2 separate regions of the Homo sapiens genome follow, and region 2 is linked to region 1. Evidence: fine-mapped expression QTL. A gene starts in region 1. The other region holds a variant in brackets. All regions are shown on one strand. Distances are from middle to middle.

Region 1 (5,375 bases):
CTCTTGATTGCCTTCCCCAGCTATTACTTTGGTACATGTGAGGCCAAAGATAAATTAGTGGCAACTGAAAGATAAGGAAATCTTGAAGGCTGGGAGTCCAGATAGAAAGCCCTAATGCCTTCCCTCTCCTCCACTCCCAATGCCTTTTTAAAAGTGATGATGGATGTGGCATCTTGGCCTCTCAGAAACCAGCTGGCCTAATGGCAGGGCTTCCTCACTGGAGGAGAAGCATTGAGATCTTCAACCTAAGTTCTCTTACTCAGGTTTCTCTGTCTGAATGTCAAGGGTAGGCTTTATTTCCTTCAGGGCATTTAGTCCTGGATTGGTAGCTTGAGTAATTTTGCTCTTGATTGACTCCTTAACCTTCCAGGGCTCCTCTGACCTCTTCCCTCTACTTCCCAGTGAATACCATGTTTATTAGAGATTTTATGTTTGGTAGGGGGTAGTTACCATATGTCAGTTTAAAAATTTCATAAGTTTAGCAGTTTGTTGTTTTTTTTTTTTGTTTTGTTTTTTTTGAGAAGGAGCCTCACTGTGTCGCCAGGCTGGAGTGCTGTGGCACGATCTTGGCTCAACTGCAACCTCCGCCTCCCAGATTTAAGCGATTCCCCTGCCTCAGCCTCCTGAGTAGCTGGGGTTACAGGCGCCCACTACCACACCCAGGTGATTTTTTGTATTTTAGTAAAGAGGGGTTTCACCATGTTGGCCAGGATGGTCTTGATCTCCTAAACTCGTGATCCGCCCAGCTCAGCCTCCCAAAGTGCTGGGATTACAGGTGTGAGCCACCACACCCAGCCAAGTTTAACAGCTTTTGAAAGTCTTTTTTTTTTTTAGGCTGGGTACAGTGGCTCATGCCTGTATCCCAGCACTTTGGGAGGCCGAGGTGGGCAGATCACTTGGTCAGGAGTTCGAGACCAGCCTGGCCAAAATGGTGAAACCCCATCTCTACTAAAAAATTACTTGGGCGTGGTGGTGGGCACCTGTAGTCCCAGCTACTCGGGAGGCTGAGGCGGGAGAATCCCTTGAACCCAGGAGGTGGAGGTTGCAGTCAGCTGAGATCATGCCATTGCCCTCCAGCCTGGGCGACCGACGAGCAAAACTGTCTCAAAAAAAGAAAAAAAAATCTTTTAGATGAATTTGAATACTTTTTACTTACTATATGTATGCCACACTATTAGCTAAAAGGACTATTTTTTTTTCTTTGCTAGGAGCCGGTGAAACCTGAAGAAGGCAGAGATATGGCAAACAGGATTGGCGCTTTTGGGTACATGGAGTGTTCAGCAAAGACCAAAGATGGAGTGAGAGAGGTTTTTGAAATGGCTACGAGAGCTGCTCTGCAAGCTAGACGTGGGAAGAAAAAATCTGGGTGCCTTGTCTTGTGAAACCTTGCTGCAAGCACAGCCCTTATGCGGTTAATTTTGAAGTGCTGTTTATTAATCTTAGTGTATGATTACTGGCCTTTTTCATTTATCTATAATTTACCTAAGATTACAAATCAGAAGTCATCTTGCTACCAGTATTTAGAAGCCAACTATGATTATTAACGATGTCCAACCCGTCTGGCCCACCAGGGTCCTTTTGACACTGCTCTAACAGCCCTCCTCTGCACTCCCACCTGACACACCAGGCGCTAATTCAAGGAATTTCTTAACTTCTTGCTTCTTTCTAGAAAGAGAAACAGTTGGTAACTTTTGTGAATTAGGCTGTAACTACTTTATAACTAACATGTCCTGCCTATTATCTGTCAGCTGCAAGGTACTCTGGTGAGTCACCACTTCAGGGCTTTACTCCGTAACAGATTTTGTTGGCATAGCTCTGGGGTGGGCAGTTTTTTGAAAATGGGCTCAACCAGAAAAGCCCAAGTTCATGCAGCTGTGGCAGAGTTACAGTTCTGTGGTTTCATGTTAGTTACCTTATAGTTACTGTGTAATTAGTGCCACTTAATGTATGTTACCAAAAATAAATATATCTACCCCAGACTAGATGTAGTATTTTTTGTATAATTGGATTTCCTAATACTGTCATCCTCAAAGAAAGTGTATTGGTTTTTTAAAAAAGAAAGTGTATTTGGAAATAAAGTCAGATGGAAAATTCATTTTTTAAATTCCCGTTTTGTCACTTTTTCTGATAAAAGATGGCCATATTACCCCTTTTCGGCCCCATGTATCTCAGTACCCCATGGAGCTGGGCTAAGTAAATAGGAATTGGTTTCACGCCTGAGGCAATTAGACACTTTGGAAGATGGCATAACCTGTCTCACCTGGACTTAAGCATCTGGCTCTAATTCACAGTGCTCTTTTCTCCTCACTGTATCCAGGTTCCCTCCCAGAGGAGCCACCAGTTCTCATGGGTGGCACTCAGTCTCTCTTCTCTCCAGCTGACTAAACTTTTTTTCTGTACCAGTTAATTTTTCCAACTACTAATAGAATAAAGGCAGTTTTCTAAACTTCCTGTATCCTGTTGTTTGTGTTGCTCTCTCCAGGGCTGGGGGTAGGAGGATGCAAGGACTTCCTGGCCTAGCTCACCCTGGAGAGGTTTGTTGAGTGCAAAGGACTAGCTTGTGCCCCACCTCCCACCCACCCAGCAGCTAATCTGGTCCCTCCCAACAACATGGAAATGATTACCCTGTACCGCATTCTGGTTCAGATTTGGGGGTAGGGTGAATGCAGCCTGAGGAGGCCAGGGAGGGAGGACTCCGGCAGCGTTTCCTTGGCCTCGGCGAGCTACTGGGCTCCACTTAAGGAGGCTGGGGCAGAGCTTCCAGGACTCTGCCCGGTTAGAAAACCCGCACGAGGGCGGTGCCGCTTTGGAGACAGGGAGGAGGGAGACCGGAAGCCTAGATCCCTCTGGCTGTCCCCTGCACTGCCGGTAACATGGCACAGGAGAGGAGGGCTGTTTGTGCACGGGCAGCTCCTGCAGCTGCTGCCGTCGCCCACCAGCCTCCTATGCCAAACCCCACATCCTAACTCAGGAACCTCTGAGAAAAAACGGAGCCCTCGAGGGCCCCAGCCCTTGGAAGGGTAACCTGGACCGCTGCCGCCTGGTTGCCTGGGCCAGACCAGACATGCCTGCTGCTCCTTCCGGCTTAGGAGGAGCACGCGTCCCGCTCGGGCGCACTCTCCAGCCTTTTCCTGGCTGAGGAGGGGCCGAGCCCTCCGGGTAGGGCGGGGGCCGGATGAGGCGGGACCCTCAGGCCCGGAAAACTGCCTGTGCCACGTGACCCGCCGCCGGCCAGTTAAAAGGAGGCGCCTGCTGGCCTCCCCTTACAGTGCTTGTTCGGGGCGCTCCGCTGGCTTCTTGGACAATTGCGCCATGTGTGCTGCTCGGCTAGCGGCGGCGGCGGCGGCGGCCCAGTCGGTGTATGCCTTCTCGGCGCGCCCGCTGGCCGGCGGGGAGCCTGTGAGCCTGGGCTCCCTGCGGGGCAAGGTACTACTTATCGAGAATGTGGCGTCCCTCTGAGGCACCACGGTCCGGGACTACACCCAGATGAACGAGCTGCAGCGGCGCCTCGGACCCCGGGGCCTGGTGGTGCTCGGCTTCCCGTGCAACCAGTTTGGGCATCAGGTGCGCCGGGCGGAGCGGGGCGGGGCGGGGGCGGACGTGCAGTAGTGGCTGGGGGCGCCGGCGGTGTGCTGGTGGGTGCCGTCGGCTCCATGCGCGGAGAGTCTGGCTACTCTCTCGTTTCCTTTCTGTTGCTCGTAGCTGCTGAAATTCCTCTCCGCCCTTGGGATTGCGCATGGAGGGCAAAATCCCGGTGACTCATAGAAAATCTCCCTTGTTTGTGGTTAGAACGTTTCTCTCCTCCTCTTGACCCCGGGTTCTAGCTGCCCTTCTCTCCTGTAGGAGAACGCCAAGAACGAAGAGATTCTGAATTCCCTCAAGTACGTCCGGCCTGGTGGTGGGTTCGAGCCCAACTTCATGCTCTTCGAGAAGTGCGAGGTGAACGGTGCGGGGGCGCACCCTCTCTTCGCCTTCCTGCGGGAGGCCCTGCCAGCTCCCAGCGACGACGCCACCGCGCTTATGACCGACCCCAAGCTCATCACCTGGTCTCCGGTGTGTCGCAACGATGTTGCCTGGAACTTTGAGAAGTTCCTGGTGGGCCCTGACGGTGTGCCCCTACGCAGGTACAGCCGCCGCTTCCAGACCATTGACATCGAGCCTGACATCGAAGCCCTGCTGTCTCAAGGGCCCAGCTGTGCCTAGGGCGCCCCTCCTACCCCGGCTGCTTGGCAGTTGCAGTGCTGCTGTCTCGGGGGGGTTTTCATCTATGAGGGTGTTTCCTCTAAACCTACGAGGGAGGAACACCTGATCTTACAGAAAATACCACCTCGAGATGGGTGCTGGTCCTGTTGATCCCAGTCTCTGCCAGACCAAGGCGAGTTTCCCCACTAATAAAGTGCCGGGTGTCAGCAGAACTGTGTGTATGTCCTGTGTCATTGTCATTTGGGAATTCTTTTTCTTTTCTTTTTTTTTTTTTTTTTTTGAGACGGAGTTTTTTGCTCTATTGCCCAGGCTGGAGTGCAGTGGCGCAATCTAGGCTCACTGCAAGCTCCGCCTCCCGGGTTCACGCCATTCTCCTGCCTCAACCTCCTGAGTAGCTGGGACTACAGGTGCCTGCCACCACGCCCGGCTAATTTTTTGTATTTTTAGTAGAGACAGGGTTTCACCGTGTTAGCCAGGATGGTATCGATCTCCTGACCTCGTGATCCACCCGCCTCGGCCTCCCAAAGTGCTGGGATTACAGGTATGAGCCACCGCACCCGGCCTGGCGATACTTTTTCTAACCTCATTGTCATAGTGGTGGGAACTTAATCCTCCTTCCCTTATCCTAGCCAAGTCTGAACTTTCTGTCCTTTTGTCTGCAGCGTGTAGGATCCACTCTTTCCTTTGTGGGAAGTCTGGCTCCTGGCCTGCATTTCTGCCTTCACCAGAACATGCAAAGGGCCATCTCAAGACCCAGTTACAACAAAGTCCTTACTTCAAAAAAGACACAAGGCAATGGTTGACTGCCTAACTCAAATGATAGACTTCTGACTACTTGCTGCACGCTGAAATGACTGTCACAAAATAACATGAGCCCCCACTCACATTTGGAGTCATGGCCTCTCCAATTGTTAGGTCCACACAATCCCATTTTACACGGAAGCTCATGCAATGTTATAAATTCTGTTATCTGGCTAGATCTTTCCATGTTGCTACCAAGTGCCTGTATCTGCTGTGACGATGATCTTACAAGTTTCTGCCTCATATATTCAAGAGTGAGAAAACTATAATTTAACTGGCCCTTCTGACTATGCCCTGCCCAACACTTAACGTGCAATTAATTGCACATTCAGGCCCAGGATAAGGGCTTGTCTTTGAAGCCAGCTGCTGCT
Region 2 (5,375 bases), 41 kb before region 1:
TTGCCATGTTGTCCAGGCTGGTCTCTAACTCCTGAGCTCTGGCCTCGCAAAGTGGTGGGATTATAGGTGTGAACCACTGCACCCGGCCTAGTTTTTTATTTTAAGAAATATATATACTTGGTAAAAGTAAACTCCTGCAATAAGGTTTACAATAAGCATATATAAATTCTTAGCCAGCTCACTGGGAGGTACCTAATGGTTCATTTTTCTTTGTCAGTTTTACTAGATACGCATTGTCTTAGAGGCAATGTAAGTTTGGAATTAGGCCAAACAAAGTCAAATCCTGATTCTGTGCATCCATTGAAGGTTAACCTTATAATATTTACATTTTGAGATAAATGATTTCATGCTCTTATTTAGGAAACTTGACGGTATGTTACCTCAGGGATTGTTCCTTGCCTGTCTTTCCCCAAAGAACTTGAGTTTGAAGTGATTTTCACTTGGCAGTAAATTGAAGGTTTTCTTCATTGCTTACCACCATGTGCCTTATTCCTGCTGCTCTTGATCTCCAAGTGCCCTTACTGCTACAGAAAGGAAAGCTCTTGAACTAAGAGCTTGGCAGCCACTTGATCAGGATGGCCAAATAATGGCAGTACAGGTTGAGCATCTGAAATGCTTCAAGATGGGCGCTGGCATGACATTCAAAGGAAATGCCTAGTGGTGCCTTTCAGACTTTCAATTTTTGGATTTGGGATACTGAACCAGTAAGTATAATGCAGATATTCCAAAATCTGAAGAAATTCTGAAATCTGAAACACTTCTGGGCCCAAGCATTTTGGATAAGCAGTACTCAACCTATACCAGGCTCAAGTTCATTATGGACAGATGGATGGATGGTAGTTTGGCCCTTTCATCAGGAATTTCCCATGCAGTCAGTAAACAAAATAAACAGCTCTATGTTTTCAACTTCATTTCCCCAATTTTTTTTTTTTTTTTTTGAGACAGAGTTTCATTCTTGTCGCCCAGGCTGGAGTGCAGTGGCCCGATCTCCACTCACTGCAACCTTTGCCTCCCAGAGGTTTCGCCATGTTGCCCAGGCTGGTGTCAAACTCTTGGGCTCAAGTGATCCATCCGCCATGGCCTCCCAAAGTGCTGGGATTATAGGCATAAGCTACCTTGCCTGTCCGTTTTCATATTTTTTTGAGAGATGAGGTCTCACTGTATTGCCCAGACTGGTCTCCACCTCTTGGCTTCAAGCAGTCCTCCTGCCTCCCAAAGTGCTGGGATTGCAGTTGTGAGCCACCACACCTGGTCAGGAGTTTTACATACTATGCGTTGTTACTTGTAGGTCTTGTTTGGAAAGAAGTAACTTCCTAAGGTCAATTCAGAAAAGAAGGGTAGTAACTTAGAGGAAGTAAATTTGAAGGCCCTAGTGTCTAATATTAGTAATTTGGGCTTTTGAAAGTTTCCTTTCTAAAAGGTAGGAAATTAACTCTTTTTTTTTTTTTTTTTTTTGAGACGGAGTCTCTGTCGCCCAGGCTGGAGTGCAGTGGTGCAATCTCAGCTCACTGCAAGTTCTGCCTCCCGGGTTCACGCCATTCTCCTGCCTCAGCCTCCCGAATAGCTGGGACTACAGGCGCCCGCCACTATGCCCGGCTAATTTTTTTGTATTTTTAGTAGAGACGGGATTTCACCGTGTTAGCCAGGATGGTCTTGATCTCCTGACCTCGTGATCCGCCCGCCTCGGCCTCCCAAAGTGCTGGAATTACAGGCGTGAGCCACCGTGCCCGGCTGGAAATTAACCCTTTTATATACCATCCCCCCACCTCACCTTTTTGGCTACAATCTTGCTCTGTCACCCAGGCTGGAGTGCAGTGGCATGATCATAGCTCACTGCAGCCTTGAACTCCTGGGCTCAAGGGATCCAGCTACCTCAGCCTCCTGAGTAGCTAGGATTACAGACGCATGGCACCAAGTCCTGATACAGTCTTCTCTGTACCAGAACAAAGTATTCAGTGATTCAAGCTCACATAGGCATGAAACAGCACTGAAAGACGAAGTGCTGTAGGAGTTCAGGGATAAAGAAGAATTTAGAGTAGCCAGGAAGCCACTGAGGCCTCTGGTGGTGAGGGTGTAACTCTTGGCCTTTAAAATGAGGTTTAGGGGAAATGTTATGAGTAGTGGGAATCAACCCTTGGCCTGAACACAGATAATCTTGTTTTATCTCCTTATAGAAACAGGAGGTGGTGGGGGGTGGCCAGTTTTGGTTAGACTAGGGAAGATGTTGGGGGAGAGGGGGGCAGTATGCTTCTGTAGTTTCGTTTTTTTTGTTTTTTTTTTTTTTTGAGATGGAGTCTCGCTCTGTCACCCAGGCTGGAGTGCAGTGGCGCGGTCTCGGCTCACTGCAAGCTCCGCCTCCCGGGTTCAAGCGATTCTCCTGCCTCAGCCTCCCGAGTAGCTGGGATTACAAGCACGTGCCACCATGCCCAGCTAATTTTTTTGTATTTTTAGTAGAGACGGGTTTCACCTTGTTGGTCAGGCTGGTCTCGAACTCCTGATTCGCCCACCTCGGCCTCCCAACGTGCTGGGATTACAGGCGTGAGCCACCGTGCCCAGCCGTTTCTGTAGTTTCTTGAGTTCAGATTCCAAGATGGATTTTTGCATATGTATTGCTTTATTTCTTACCCCCTTGATGTAATCTACTATATAAATCTTTTAAAGTCCCTACATTTAAAAATTTATCTTGTTCGAAAACATAATAGTTTTATTTGGTAAATTCAAACAGTGCAAAAGGATATATGGCCCCTAGAGGTACCTGTTGTGTTTCTTGTAGACCAGTGCATGTAATCCCAGCACTTGGGGCAGCTGAGGGGAGCCCAGGAGTTCTAGGCCGCAGTGAGTCATGATCACTCCACTGCACTCCAGCACTGCAGCCTGAGTGACAAAGCAAGACCCTTTCTGGGGGAAAAAAAAAAAAAA[G/AG]CTCCTGTGTACTATTCTAGAGACAGTCTATACATATACCAGTGTCTATTGGTGAATATTGTACACCTCTGTCAAGCCCTGTTTTGTATATCTATGTATCCCGCCATTACACTATGGTATGATAGCATATGACATATTTGGCACATCACTTTTTTCATTTAATAATCTTGTCTCAGAGATCATTTGTTAACACACTTTTTTTTTTTTTGAGACAGAGTCTCGCTCTGTCGCCCAGGCTGCAGTGCAGTGGTGCGATCTCGGCTCACTGCAAGCTCCGCCTCCCAGGTTCACGTCATTCTCTTGCCTCAGCCTCCCGAGTAGCTGGGACTACAGGTGCCCGCCGCCACGCCCAGCTAAGTTTTTGTAGTTTTTAGTAGAGACGGGGTTTCACTGTGTCAGCCAGGGTGGTCTTGATCTCCTGACCTCGTGATCTGCCTGCCTCGGCCTCCCAGAGTGCTGGGATTACAGGCATGAGCCACCGTGCCCAGCCTTTTTTTTTTTTTTTTTTTTTTTTTTTTTTTTTGAGACGGAGTCTTGCTCTGTCACGCAGGCTGGAGTGCAGTGGCACAGTCTCAGCTAACTGCAACCTCTGCCTCCCGAGGCAGCAATTCTCCTGTCTCAGTCTCCCAAATAACTGGGATTACAGGCGTGAGCCACCAGTATTAAAGCCCTGTAATAATACTGTAATACTCAGACAGCAAAATTCTTTTTTTTTTTTTTTTTTTTTTTTTTTTTTTTGAGACGGAGTCTCGCTGTGTCGCTCAGGCTGGAGTGCAGTGGCATAATCTCGGCTCACTGCAAGCTCTGCCTCCCGGGTTCACGCCGTTCTCCTGCCTCAGCCTCCAGAGTAGCTAGGACTACAGGTGCCCGCCACCACGACCAGCTAATTTTTTGTATTTCTTTTTTTTTTTCTTTTAGTAGAGACGGGGTTTCATGGTGTTTTAGCCAGGATGGTCTCGATCTCCTGACCTCGTGATCCACCCGCCTTGGCCTCCCAAAGTGCTGGGATTACAGGCGTGAGCCACCGCGCCCTGCCAGCAAAATTCTTTAAGCCCCCACTGGGGCTTAACATCTATTGATGCTACTGCCTACCCTTTCACTGCTCCTTACCTTTAGTTTATCACTGTAATTACCCCCTTTTATGTATTCTCCATTTCTTGTTCTGTCTCTCATTTTATGTTACCTGGCAAAATCTCAGCCCTGGTTTAGATCTTACTTTTTTTTTTTGACAAAGTCTTGCTCTGTTACCCAGGGTGGAGTGCAGTGGTGCGATCTCAAGGCTCACAGCAACCTCCGCCTTCTGGGTTCAAGCAATTCTCGTGTCTCAGCCTCCTGAGTAGATGGGACCACAGGAGCGCGCCACCACACTTGGCTACTTTAGTAGAGATGGGGTTTCACCGTGTTGGCCGGGGTGGTCTCAAACTCCTGACCTCAAGTGATCTGCCCACCTCAGCCTCCCAAAGTGCTGGGACTATAGGTGTGAGCCACCACGCCTAGCCTAAATCCTACTCTTTACCTATTCTGTGCTTTTGACTGAATGTAGCGAAAGAAAAAATTCACTGACTTGTCTCTCTTTGAACTCATGGACCCTTGACCTCAAAGGTGGCTGCTTTTAGCACTGCCTAGCAGTCCCGCTAAGATTCCTTAGTCCGTTTATTCTCCTGCTTTTAGGATAATATAGCACCATGTCCTTTGGCTCAAATCTCCTGTTCCCTTTCCTTGCCTCTATCAGCTGTTATGATCTTGCTTCTTACTTATTTTTCTATTCCTGTGGATCAGTCCCTTGGGAGTCCATTGTTCTATCTAAGGTCAGCCCTTCCACTTGCAAGCGAAATCTCGTTCCCCTCTAATCTCGTAATGTTGCTCTAGCAGTTCTCTGCTCTCCTGCATCATCATTTTCTGCATACAGTCTGTTGGTCAGATCTTAATACCCCACCTAGCTGCAGTGAATGCTGGGAAATGTAGTCTTTATAACTGGCAGCCATGTGACTATGAAGGGGAAAGCTATTGAGGCAGATAAGCAGGCAGTCTCTGCCATACTTTCAACGCTTATTTTTTTTAAAAAAACAAAAACCAACTCTTTTGGTAACAATTTTACTGAGATATAATTCATATATCACACCATTCATTTGAAATGAACAGTTTGGTGGGTTTTAGTATATTCACAGAGTTTTACGTGTATCACTACAGTCAATTTTAGAACATTATTATCACCTCAAAAAGAAACCCTATGTTCTTCAACTGTCATCTTCAATCTCCCTATCACCACGCCCAGCCTTAGGTAACCACTAATCTACTTTGTGTCTCTATAGATTTGCCTATTCTGGATATTTCGTGTAATGGAATCATATATTGTCTTTTGTGACTGGCTTCTTTCATTTATGCAATGTTTTAAAGGTTCATCCATGTTGTAACATTTATTTTCTGACTTTTTTTTTTTTTTTTTTTGAGACAGG

Alleles and levels. Positions count from the first base shown, and alleles are read on the strand shown. Sizes are in standard deviations (SD) of each study's normalised expression.
As copies of AG replace G in region 2, the expression in prefrontal cortex of the gene that starts at base 3,238 in region 1 goes up (moderate effect, 0.54 SD a copy in BrainSeq).

The links. PIP is the estimated chance that this variant, and not a neighbour inherited with it, causes the effect. A credible set is the group of variants that fine-mapping cannot tell apart.
Region 2: its variant is the best candidate, but not a certain one, in a credible set for the expression of GPX1 in prefrontal cortex (BrainSeq, PIP 0.58).

Annotation. Positions count from the first base shown.
Region 1 is chr3:49,356,216-49,361,590 of GRCh38, reverse strand. GPX1 (glutathione peroxidase 1) reads left to right here and starts at 3,238. Exons shown (of 2, transcript NM_000581.4): 1 at 3,238-3,564; 2 at 3,844-4,415. The coding sequence starts at 3,313. The coding sequence ends at 4,203. It overlaps RHOA (ras homolog family member A), which reads left to right. Exons shown (of 5, transcript NM_001664.4): 5 at 1,209-2,446. The coding sequence ends at 1,382. RefSeq lists enhancers at 2,345-2,953, 2,716-3,045, 2,954-3,562 and a silencer at 3,206-3,265.
Region 2 is chr3:49,397,122-49,402,496 of GRCh38, reverse strand. All of the region lies in intron 1 of RHOA (ras homolog family member A), which reads left to right. Among named protein-coding and RNA genes, the nearest start is that of RHOA, 12 kb to the left of the region's middle. The variant G/AG (reference allele first, on the strand shown) is at 2,920.